Homo sapiens: one gene and its partners. The protein of the gene in region 1 interacts with the protein of each later gene in a pairwise test. Each region holds a gene or a part of one and is shown on either strand. Other genes may lie near its edges. The genes, in order: ZBTB16, FAM217B and MID2.

Region 1 (3,750 bases):
CTCGCCTCCTGCTGTGCAGCCCAGCTCCTCACAGACCATGGCCCGGGGGTTGGGGACTCCTGCCATAGAGTTCGTAAGTGGCAGGGCTGGGGTTCACACTCACACACCCTAGATTTTAATGCTTTCCCAAGACTAGCTACAGATCCTGTTTTGTTTTTTTTTTTTAACTACTTCTCCACTCACTAAAGCATGAATCTTAGGTCCATTCACTCAACAAGTATTATTTGATGCCTTCTACAAGCAAGGCTGTCTTTTTGGCACTGGGGATATAACCAAGGAAGAGCATGCAAAGTCCCTGCTCTCATGACCGACGTTACCCAGAACACCAGGTGAATGGCGGAATCCGGAAGATGGAATAGTGTCTGTGAACACTCTGGGCCAGGAGGAAACATGGCCGGTGGGAGGATCAGACAGAGGAATGGTGCAGTGCAGCTGGGGAAGAAGAGGAGGCTAAAGGGAAAGGCAAGGGCCAGGCCATGCAGGGTCTTGCAAACCACGTCAAGAGATTTAGTTCCATCCTAAACCCGATGGGCAACTGTCAAAGGATTGAAAGCTAGCGAGTGATGTGAGATTTTCATTTAATTCTAACTGGCTGTTCATCCCCAAAGTACCCCACACATACAGGCTGCCATTTTCTGTTTGTTACCAATCCCTTTCTGACACTGCTCTGGAGCCATGGCCGAAATTTCCAGCTGCAGCACCACAGGAGGAAGTATCTGACCTTGTGTCTGAGTCCTAACTGGCAGCTCAGTGCCCACCCTTTTGGGCTCTGTTTTCCTGAGCACAGGAGCTCCCCGGCAGGCCCATCTGTGTGTCTCTGTGCTGGTGCCTGGGCAATATCACCTGCACTTGGCCCCACACCGCTGTCCCCTGTGTGGGAAGGCACAAGCAGGAAACGTAAGTAGGCCTAGCATCTGTCAGTCCAGTCCAGAGTGGGTGGGGGGAGGGGGTAAAGCTTTGGCTGCTGGAAGCCATGGGCTGCTCAGCATGGAATCGGGAAGTGTCTGGTGGAAGGTAGGGGGAAGAGAAGGGATGGCACGAAGAACCTCCCTGCCTTCCTGGCCATCAATGGAGATAGCAAGTGAGAGGTCTGGTCCTCACCACCTCCGTCCCACTCATGGCTGGGTTAGGATGGACTAGTAGGCAGGCAAGGCCCACCTCTCACTGTCCCCCACACTTCTGTGCCCCTCACACCCACCCTGATATCCCTTCCCTTTGCAGACACTGAAGTCTAAGCACCTGGAGCCACGCCCCATCTCACCAGCAGTCAGGAAGGCTGAGCAGGGAAGGAGAAAAACAGCCAGCACAGGATTTTGCTCCTGGCCAACAAAAAGCAGGAAGGAAGGGGAGCGAATCTAGGCGTTATGCTAGGTACCTTATCTATGTTGTCAGTTCATTTAAAACTTGCAATCCTACAAGGCAGGCATTCTTATCCCCCTTTTTACCAGTGTAAAAGAGAGATTAAATAACTTGCCTAAGATCACACAGAAAGAGGCAGAGTTGGGATCTGAAAATATCTCGGTTTGTCTTTCAGAAACCACGGGGCTGGACTCAATGCTACCTCTGGAGCTGACTGCCCGCCTGTCTGGGCTTACCCTGGAAGAGGCCCAGTAAGGATGGTACAGAGGACTCCTGCCTCTAGTACAGCTCCAGCAATGGCTAGAGAACCCCTGGCCAGGAGTGGGCAGTAGCTGGGGCTGGGTCACAAGGCATAGCTCTCTGAGGCCTTCCAATCCCACTGGGAGCCACCAAGGTCTCTCAGAAATGCTGAGTAGTCTACTCAGCTTCACTTGCTGGAGGGAGACATAATGAGAGATGTATCTTTCTGGACAGAAGCAATGCCAAGAGTTGACAGTGAGTCTTCAATGTCCCTCCCTGCTTGGCCGACGTACACAGGAGGACAGTGCATCTGCAATGCGTTCTGTGCCCGGTGGCCCCCACTCCTTCAACTTGAGAGCCCCCAGCATCTACTCCCTCTCTGCCCTTAACCCCCACCCCACAGAGAGCCCAAATTAAGCCAGGTGTTCAAACAGCTACCTTAAATCAGTAGGGTTGAGTAGGCTTTGGAGGCCAGCCATGCCCTTTAAGAGCCAAGGCTTCTCCTTATGCATCCTCTGAGATCCCCGGCATGGAAGGAACCTGGGCAGAGGGAACATGAATGGCATTCCCAATAGGACATCTCAGCCTATACAGCCAGACCCACAGGTGCTCTGAGTGTCAATACACCCAGCAAGGCAGACTGCAGCACTCTGCCCCCTTGGCCTTTCCAAGGCCCCTCGATACTGCCCCACTATGCTGTCCCTACTTCTCAGGGTGGCCTGAACCCACTTCATGTCCATTCAGCCAACTCACTGAGCCACTACCAAGTACAGGCACTGTGCTAGGTGACCAGGGGCAGGCTAAGGCTGAGCAGAGAAACTGGGTCCCAGACTAGTGGGAGATGCTGAGTTAACAACCACCCAGAGGGTAAGGCAGGGCGACTCCAAGAGCTCCTGAGATTTTGAGTTAGGCTTTTAAAAGTTGAGTATCTGAGAAGCAAAGGACAAGAAGTTGGGACACATGTGCCAGGCTAAGGAGAGAGACACCACTGGCAAATGTCAGAGCAGATGGGGCCAAGGTCAGGCCCTGGGGATGGAGACAAGCTGGGAGGGTGATGGGAGTCAGATCAGAGGGCTGCATATGCCAGGCAGGACAGGTTGGACTTTATTCTACAGGCAATGCAGTGCCATGAAAGGACCGAGGGTTGCTATGATCCTAATGTCTGGGTCCCCCTCTGATTCCTTTTTTGAAATCCTAACCCCTAAGGTGATGGTATTAGGAAGTGGGGCCTGGGAGAGATAATTAGGTAATTAAAATGGAATGAGTGTCCTTGTAAAAGAGGGCCCAGAGAGCTAGCTAGCCCCTTCCACCACGTGAGGACACCGAGAAATCAGCAGTCTGCAACCAGGAGGAGGACCCTCACCAGAACCTGAACATGCTGGCACCCCAATCACAGACTTCCCAGCCTCCAGAGCTGTGAGAAATGCATGTCTGCTGTGTATAAGCCACCCAGTCCGTGGCAGTTTGTTATAGCAGCCTGACTTGACTAAGACGAGTGGTGCTAGCACGATCTGACCTGTGTTTGAAGCCAGTGACTCTGGGCACACATGGGGACCAACAGCAGCAGCAAGCGGTTAGAAGCAGCGAGAGGGCTGATGGGCCACTGGAGGAGGGTAGGGACCAGACCAGGGCAGAGGCTGCCAGGGCAAAGGGAGAGAGAAAATCCTAGAAAGGTGGGACAGCAAGGGAGGAGTGGCACGCAAAAAATCCCAGATGGCCAGTTCCACAACTGGCCAACAGGCTGGAAGTCATATGGTCACCAGCTGGAAAGGAAACACTATGATGTCCCTACAGTGGTCTCTCTCCCCTTCCTGGGACATTCCACAAGGTGCAGGGGTGCTCCTTGGTCACGTATCCACCAACCAAGGCTCCCAGGGGAAGAAAGGGGAGCCTCTGAGACTCAGCATCCACTTTCCCCATTTTTCTGCTTAGAAACTAACAGCTATGATGATAGAAAAGTATTTTTAAAAAAATGGAAAAGTGGGGGAGATGTGGATGAGACACAAGAAAAGCTATTGGTGCATGCGAGTTAAAAATCTAGAGACTAGATGTGAGTTATTAAACAATTTGCTGGCGTTTCAGCCTAGCTGATTGTTCGCATGTATGATGAGTCAGGGCAGATTCTATTACACTGGGAGATTAAGCAAATAA
Region 2 (3,750 bases), on another chromosome or scaffold:
GTTTGCACTCTAGGTTATGAAATACTGGGGAAGGGAGACATTGTCTTATGCTTACAGCTTTGTCTTTTCTGCTTATTACAGTAGATATTAGAGACAGGATCACAGGATCACACTACTATAAATACTGTGAATGGATTCCATCTCTCTCTCTCTCTCCCTGTTCACACACAGGTATAATCTTCCTTGGAAATAATATGTTGAAGAAATCTGGAAGGCTAAATAAGGTCAGGTCTTATTACAGCGTTCAATCATTGCATTGCCCAATCATTCATTCATGCAACAAATAATTACAGGAGTACCCAGAAAAATGGCAATGATTATGCACGTCCCTGTTCAGAAGGAGCTTAAACTCTAGGAGGAACGTTCCCATTCAATTTTTCGGCCTTCTCTATCACATCAATCCATTATAAGACTTTCCATATATTCATACATATTACATATTATATATCATCTCTTTATGAAGCATTGTTGACCTATACCACATATTGCTGTTATTCCCCTCTCATTTTGAGTGGCCTATTAAAAGTGCACTGAATGGAAATTGGATACTTCTCTTTCCCGTATCACCTGTCTCTGTAAAATAAAAGAGATGATTATAGAAGATTTTTATTTTCTTCCTGAAACTTTCCTGTATTTTTCCCACATTAATCATGTAAGCCTTTTTAGTTAGCTTACATCCAATGATAAATAAAATCATTCTCTCACATTTCATGAATTATACCACAATCAACAGCCTTGACTCATTTTAGATGCAACGAATGTTCTTGAATCAACCCCCTTTCATTAGTCTGGTTTTCTTTCTGCTTTGTCCCTCTGGACAATAAAAAGGAACCTTCTTAATGGAATGGCTGGCCCCAAACTGCTCTCTGGAAAGTGCACTTGCATCTTTTCTACTTCATTTCACCTGGTATGCTTTACACCAAAGGCTGTGGGGTTTTGTGCTCAAAGCTACCGGGTGAGAGACACGAATGCCTGCAGGGTTCTAAATAGGCAGAAAACAAGCTCCAGGCCTTGCTGGTGTTTCTGGCTTGCTTGGAAACAAAGCTAAAAGTCGGAGATTCTGGCTACAAATATGCTCCCCAAGCGCCAGAGGCTGATTAAGGGCAGCTGCAGAAGTCATCAGCGGGTAATAACTCTTGTTCCCCTGTCTTCCTCTCTGGCGCGGAGTCCAGGAAGACAACAGCAGCACCTCCCCTCCCCACCCTCAAGGGAATCTGCTGGCCATTCGGTGCGGCAAAGCATTCTGGGTGATGTGGACATGACGCTGCTCCTCTACGCAGTGAGGCTCCCTCGGTCTGACCAAGGGTCCAGGTTGCAGTGAACCTGTCCAAAGTGTGGGCTGGCCTCGATGTTTAAAATTAGCCTGAGACCAGCTCCTGGCAAGGCCGGTTTTTGCACCACCGCTCCCCCCATCCACAACCCAGAAATCTAAGGACACGCAGCATGCATTTTCCTTGTCCTCCGTTTGTGCAGACAAAGTCTATGATCGATAGGCGCGCAATCCAGGCAGACGTAAACAGAAATTGATCAGACCTGTTTCGCGACTGCAGCGGACACGTGACGAGGCTGCCAGCCTTCCTTCCTCTCCGGCGCCCGCGCGGGGACGCCCGGCTGCGGCGCGCTGCGGCAGGGGAGCTGGAGGCGGAGGCGCGCAGCTCCGCTGAGCTCCCTGGCTGAGCTGAGGCCGGCGGGGGCCCGCCTGCAGGCGGCGTCACGAGGGGCGGGGCGGAGGCTCGCTAGGAAGTTGCACCCGGTCAAGTTGCAGCCTTGTAAGTAACGCCGCGGACCGGGAAAGTGGGAGGGGCCGCTCCCGGAACGCAGCCTTCTTGTAAGAACCTCCAAGGAAGCAAGAAGAAAAAAGAGGCGCTACCCTGCGCTCCCGGGAGGCCTCTGAAAGCTTCCACTAGAGAAAAACTCCCCACTCTTACAATTTCTTTAACCGCAAGAAGCGGAGGACCTGGACAAGGACTCGAGGAGCAAGGTGGCGAACCAAGGGTAGGGCGCACCGGGCCCGAGAGGTCCCCCGCAGGTTGCAGATACGGTGGACTCTCTGCGGCTTCTGAGCACGGAGGGAGCTGTCGCGGGGTCGGGAGGTCGTCTCTCATCCCTGCCTCATCTTCCGACGGCCGGCGGGGCCATGTCCAGAGGCCCGAGCTCCGCGGTCCTGCCTAGCGCCCTGGGATCCCGGAAGCTCGGCCCCCGGAGCCTCAGCTGCCTGTCGGACCTGGACGGCGGCGTGGCCCTGGAGCCGCGGGCCTGTAGGCCCCCTGGGAGCCCGGGCCGCGCGCCGCCGCCAACGCCAGCGCCGTCGGGCTGCGACCCCCGCCTGCGGCCCATCATCCTGCGGCGGGCGCGCTCACTGCCCAGCTCCCCCGAGCGCCGCCAGAAGGCCGCGGGCGCGCCGGGCGCTGCGTGTCGGCCGGGCTGCAGCCAGAAGCTCCGCGTGCGCTTCGCCGACGCCCTGGGCTTGGAGCTGGCACAGGTCAAGGTGTTCAACGCGGGAGACGACCCGTCCGTGCCGCTGCACGTGCTGTCGCGGCTCGCAATCAACTCGGACCTGTGCTGCAGCAGCCAGGACCTGGAGTTCACCCTGCATTGCCTGGTGCCCGATTTCCCGCCGCCCGTCGAGGCCGCCGACTTTGGCGAGCGCCTGCAGCGGCAGCTCGTGTGCCTGGAGCGTGTCACTTGCTCGGACCTTGGCATCAGCGGTACGGTGCGCGTGTGCAACGTGGCCTTCGAGAAGCAGGTGGCTGTGCGCTACACTTTCTCGGGCTGGCGCAGTACCCACGAGGCGGTGGCGCGGTGGCGCGGGCCCGCAGGCCCCGAGGGCACGGAGGACGTTTTCACCTTCGGCTTTCCAGTACCGCCCTTCCTGCTGGAGCTCGGCTCCCGCGTGCACTTCGCGGTGCGCTACCAAGTGGCGGGTGCCGAGTACTGGGACAACAACGACCACCGAGACTACAGCCTCACATGTCGCAACCACGCGCTGCACATGCCTCGCGGGGAGTGCGAAGAGAGCTGGATCCACTTCATCTGAGCCGCGCGGGGACCGGCCACCTGGAGCCTCCACACCTAAGCTGCGCCTCCTGTCATTTCCCTGCTGGGCTCTCACATCTATCTGGTTGTTCTTCACCACCCTCCAAGTCCTCTGACCTAATTTTCTGCTGCAAGGTCCCCTGGCAGTGGCCCATCCTGTCTTCTACTTGAAACGTCTGAGTCACTTGGTCTAAAAAGTAGCCTCAGGTGGCCAGAAGGCCGAGTTGTGTAATGAGTTGGGGCAGGGTGGTGGGGTAGGTGCATGGGAGGGTGGGCCCTCTGGGGAGGCCCAAGCAGCTTGTTTTGCAAAGGCCCAAGTCCTCCTGCTAGGAAAAGCTTTTGCATGTGTCCTGAATGTGTCTCTGTAAACATAGCTGTTATTTATTATTGTGATGTTGGGACCTTTAGCCCATAGCGGATGCCTCCTCAGGAATATTCTCGATTTAATAAGCTAAAAAAAAAAAGTTCTGTGTTTGTGCCCACAGTAAACAGAATGTACAGTGTGACCCACATCGTGGTCCCTCCAGGCATTCCTGCCCCAGGATAAGGAAAACCTGAGCCCACATCTGATTGCCAACGGCTGTAGCCTTCTAACAGTGGGAAACTATTAATAGGCAAGAAATTTCTGCTTTATCAGTCATCACACAACCATTCCTGGGCATTGAGACTGTCCTGGTTAGGCTGTGTGTCTCCTACATTAACAGCTGGGGAGGA
Region 3 (3,750 bases), on another chromosome or scaffold:
AAACCCAGTTTAATTCCCCACTTTTTTAAGTAGGCTTAGCTTTGAGTGATTTTTGGCTATAACCGAAATGTAAATCCACCTTCAAACAACAAAGTTTGACAAGACTGAAATGTTACTGAAAACAATGGTGCCATATGCTCCAAAGACATTTCCCCAAGATAACTGCCAAAGAGTTTTTGAGGAGGACAATGATCATTTATTATGTAGGAGCCTTGATATCTCTGCAAAATAGAATTAATACAGCTCAAATGGAGTAGTAACCAAGCTTTTCTGCCCAGGAAGTAACAAACATCACTACGAACATGAGAGTACAAGAGGAAACTTTCATAATGCATTTTTTCATTCATACATTCATTCAATAAACATTAGCCAAGCTAATGTTCCAAGCACTGTGCCAGGTATTAACAATATAACAACAATAAAAGACACAGTCCTTCCTCTCAAGGTGTTCAGTCTAGTAGGGAAGATGATTATTCATTAAAATTTTTGGTGCATCAGAATCATGAGGAGCTTGTCAAAAATGTAAATTCCTGCCTATGTTCTCAGATATTCTGGTTAGGTCAGGAGTGGGAACCCAAAATCAATTCTTTTAACAAACACTAAAGGTGATTCTAACACAGGCGGTGTGAGGACCACACTTTGAAAAACACTGCTATACAATGTGATTATTGCTGAGAGAGGGGGATGCTTGGGGTGTCTTTGGATCTCTAAAGAGGGATGCATCATCAAGTCTAAGGAATAAAGAGTTAGTCTGGTTGAGAGAGATAGAGGTGAGGAAAGGTAGTCCAGGATAGAGTCAAAAGTAGGGTGGGGAAATTAGATCTTTGTCCCAGGGCACTAAAATCTAAAAGACACCACAATAAATGAACAGTTTTGGAGAGCCAAGGACAAGGCAAAGGAAATTGTTCTACTGGAATGGAGGTTGCATTTTCTGTACTTACAGCATTTTCACACTATTCCTTTAATTTAAGAAAAATTTCTGTTGTTTACTCTGGGCATTAAAATTGTTAATCATGTTTCTGCTGCAGGCCCAGAGAATAACTTGTGTGAATAGTTGTGTAAATAGTTAAACTTGGCTACCTTAATCAATGTGAGGGGGAAAGTGGCAAAAGATTAAGCTGTGTAAGCAAACAGGGACATGAAAACCCAGACTCTGTAAGGAGTTGGGACCTTCTACTGGGTGCTAAGGGAGCCAGTGAAAAGTTTGATGAAGGGGAAAAAAATCATTTTTTTTTGTTTAAGAATTTGGGGATATGCCCTAGGGAAGAGACAAAGGTGACTGAGAAATGAAGGAGAAATGAAGGACATACATTTTAAAGCACTGTTACGCTGTATTGGAGCTGGGAGTAAGGAAAGAGATTAATATTTATGGCACACTTAGGAAATGTCAAGCGCTGAGCTAAGACAGTTTACATATGCTATCTTTTTTAACCTTTGAAACAGCCTTGTGAAGTAGACATTATTTTACAGAGGAGGAAACAGGCTCAGAGAAGTGAGGTACTTGTCCTAGGTCACAACGCTAATAAATGGTACAGAAACTAGGATCATTTGAATCCAAAGGTTATGAGCTTTCCACTACAGCAAACTATTTACCAGCACTGATGAATTTTACTGAGGTTGTTCATTTCCTGATTAGCAGTAAGCACATATGGTATTTAAAATCAAAAAAGATGACATTGCTGCTAGATTTATATTTTTGAGCCTTCCTTGTGTGTCTGCATCAGTCTTGCCTTCCACATTAAGTGAACAAACAATACATAACTGTTATTGGGGAGGATTATATACTTTGTTTCTTCCACAGAATAGTAAGCCATTTGGCAGCAGGTAGAGCATTTTGTTAATATGTGCACTCCCATGGCAGTAGTTTGGTACCTGGCATCTAATAGTTTATTGAATGAATTAATAAATGAGCATCCACCAAACTAGGGGAAAGGAAGAGGGGAGTTTTGACATTTCAAGTCTCCAATCTGAGGGAGTTGTTATGGCTACCACTTTGTAATTTTACAACAGTAATATTTTCACAAATCCCAGAAGACTTCCGAAGCCAACTTAGCTCCTGGAAAGGGGAAAGCTCTGGCTCTCTGACATCCCCAATCCCTTCGATGGAAATTTAAAAAAAAAAATCATAGACTACAAGGCTCCATTCCCTTCAACTATACTGGTTAGGACTGGGATGAAGTTTGTCTCCATTTGCGTGGAGGGATTGGCTAAGAGAATGAATACTGTAAACAAGATTGCAAAAGGAATGATTATTTATCCTATTTAAGAAAACAAACTGTTTTCAGACATTCTTGAGCACTTCAGAAGTGTTTTATCTGAAAAAGCAAGTACATTTATATGGGAATAGTTGGTGCATCAATAATACTCAATTTTTACTGATTAAGTAAAGTAGGTTCCTAAAGAGCCTTCACTGTGCAACTTTTTAAAAGCCTAATTCTCATAACTGTGTGTACTTGGGAGTAGTAAAACTTTTTTTTTAATAGTCTATGACAGAATTTTTAACAATTCAGATGGCCATCCTCAAGTAGGTAGCATCACTTCTACCTGATCAATTTTCTATCCAGCAACAGCATCTCTTGTGCAATCTTGTCTGTAAATCTCTGCTAATCCAATAAAGCTCTTCCCATTATCTGTGTCATGGTTGCATGTGTATGTGTGCGTGACAGGAGGGAGGAAGGCAATGATGGATAGAGGGAGGAAATAAATGTTGATTGATTTTGATGTTTCCTTTAGGGGACAAAAATGGATGGTGTAACTTATTTTCCCTTCCAGTATATTTCTCACTCAAATTAGCAAATTAAAAAGTTTTTTGTTCTAGTTCGAGGTGGTGTTTGGAAAAAAAAGTTTTTTGTGTATATGTAATATATAAAGTGAATATGCATAAACATACATACACAAGTGAATATATATAAAGTACATATATGTTCACTTTATATATTACATATACACATTCATGGTTTCCTAACAAACCCTTGATGATAGGTTTTCATCAAAAGTAAAATATAATATGTGATAATTTGACACTGTTCAAAATTCTACATGGCCAAACTGGCCAGTACTAGAAAGGCTGACCACCCCCCGCTCTGGCTTGCTAGCTCCTTATTCAGGGCACCTTTCCACATTATTTAACTAGAATTACCCTAATTGCTTCCAATATAATTTATATTCTTAAATCATTGGGAATTTTTAATTCTCCAATGACAACAGAGGCATTTTCTAAATTTTTCTCCAATGGCTTGAACGCAGACTACTCAGATAATTTGTTCTGAAAAACTCAATAAATTAATTCAAATACAAGCTTTAATGCACAAAAATTAAATCTGCAATATCTAGTTATTTTGGATGCTTCAAACAAACTTTATTTTGTGTCTCGTATATTGAACGCTAACTTAGGTGTAGGAGGGGAAGAACTGCTGAACTAGAGAGCCAGTGAATTATATACTCTCCTGAAACTTAATGACAGGTTTTCATCCCAGAAACATAAGGGGATTCTTGAGGCCTGCAGTTGCATTCCTGCCGCTCAGGGTAATCAATAAAATCTGGGGCAGGCAAGCCAGACAGGATCATTAGGGATTTGTTCCAGATTGTAAATGTTGGACAAACTGGAAGAATGAAGGTCACATCAAAAGTATGAAGATGGAGAGAGTTAGCTGGGTCATAGAAAGACAGCATATTGTTGTCATAATCCAGGAGGACACCCAGACGCTTCAGGTGTGGGGGCACATCCACCAGCATTTCCTTGTTGTTGTG

Evidence for each region.
Region 2: the proteins of ZBTB16 (region 1) and FAM217B interact in binary tests that used the Homo sapiens proteins (3 or more experiments, as listed by UniProt).
Region 3: the proteins of ZBTB16 (region 1) and MID2 interact in binary tests that used the Homo sapiens proteins (3 or more experiments, as listed by UniProt).

Annotation. Positions count from the first base shown.
Region 1 is NC_000011.10:114,237,649-114,241,398, reverse strand, and holds part of ZBTB16 (zinc finger and BTB domain-containing protein 16), read right to left. Parts: intron 1-3,750. UniProt on the Homo sapiens protein: Acts as a transcriptional repressor. Transcriptional repression may be mediated through recruitment of histone deacetylases to target promoters. May play a role in myeloid maturation and in the development and/or maintenance of other differentiated tissues.
Region 2 is NC_000020.11:59,938,319-59,942,068, reverse strand, and holds the start of FAM217B (protein FAM217B), read right to left. Parts: upstream 1,681-3,750; 5' UTR 1,534-1,680; intron 1-1,533. Other genes in the region: PPP1R3D (protein phosphatase 1 regulatory subunit 3D), read left to right, coding at 2,138-3,037.
Region 3 is NC_000023.11:107,926,777-107,930,526, reverse strand, and holds part of MID2 (probable E3 ubiquitin-protein ligase MID2), read right to left. Parts: coding exon 3,454-3,750; 3' UTR 1-3,453. UniProt on the Homo sapiens protein: E3 ubiquitin ligase that plays a role in microtubule stabilization. Mediates the 'Lys-48'-linked polyubiquitination of LRRK2 to drive its localization to microtubules and its proteasomal degradation in neurons.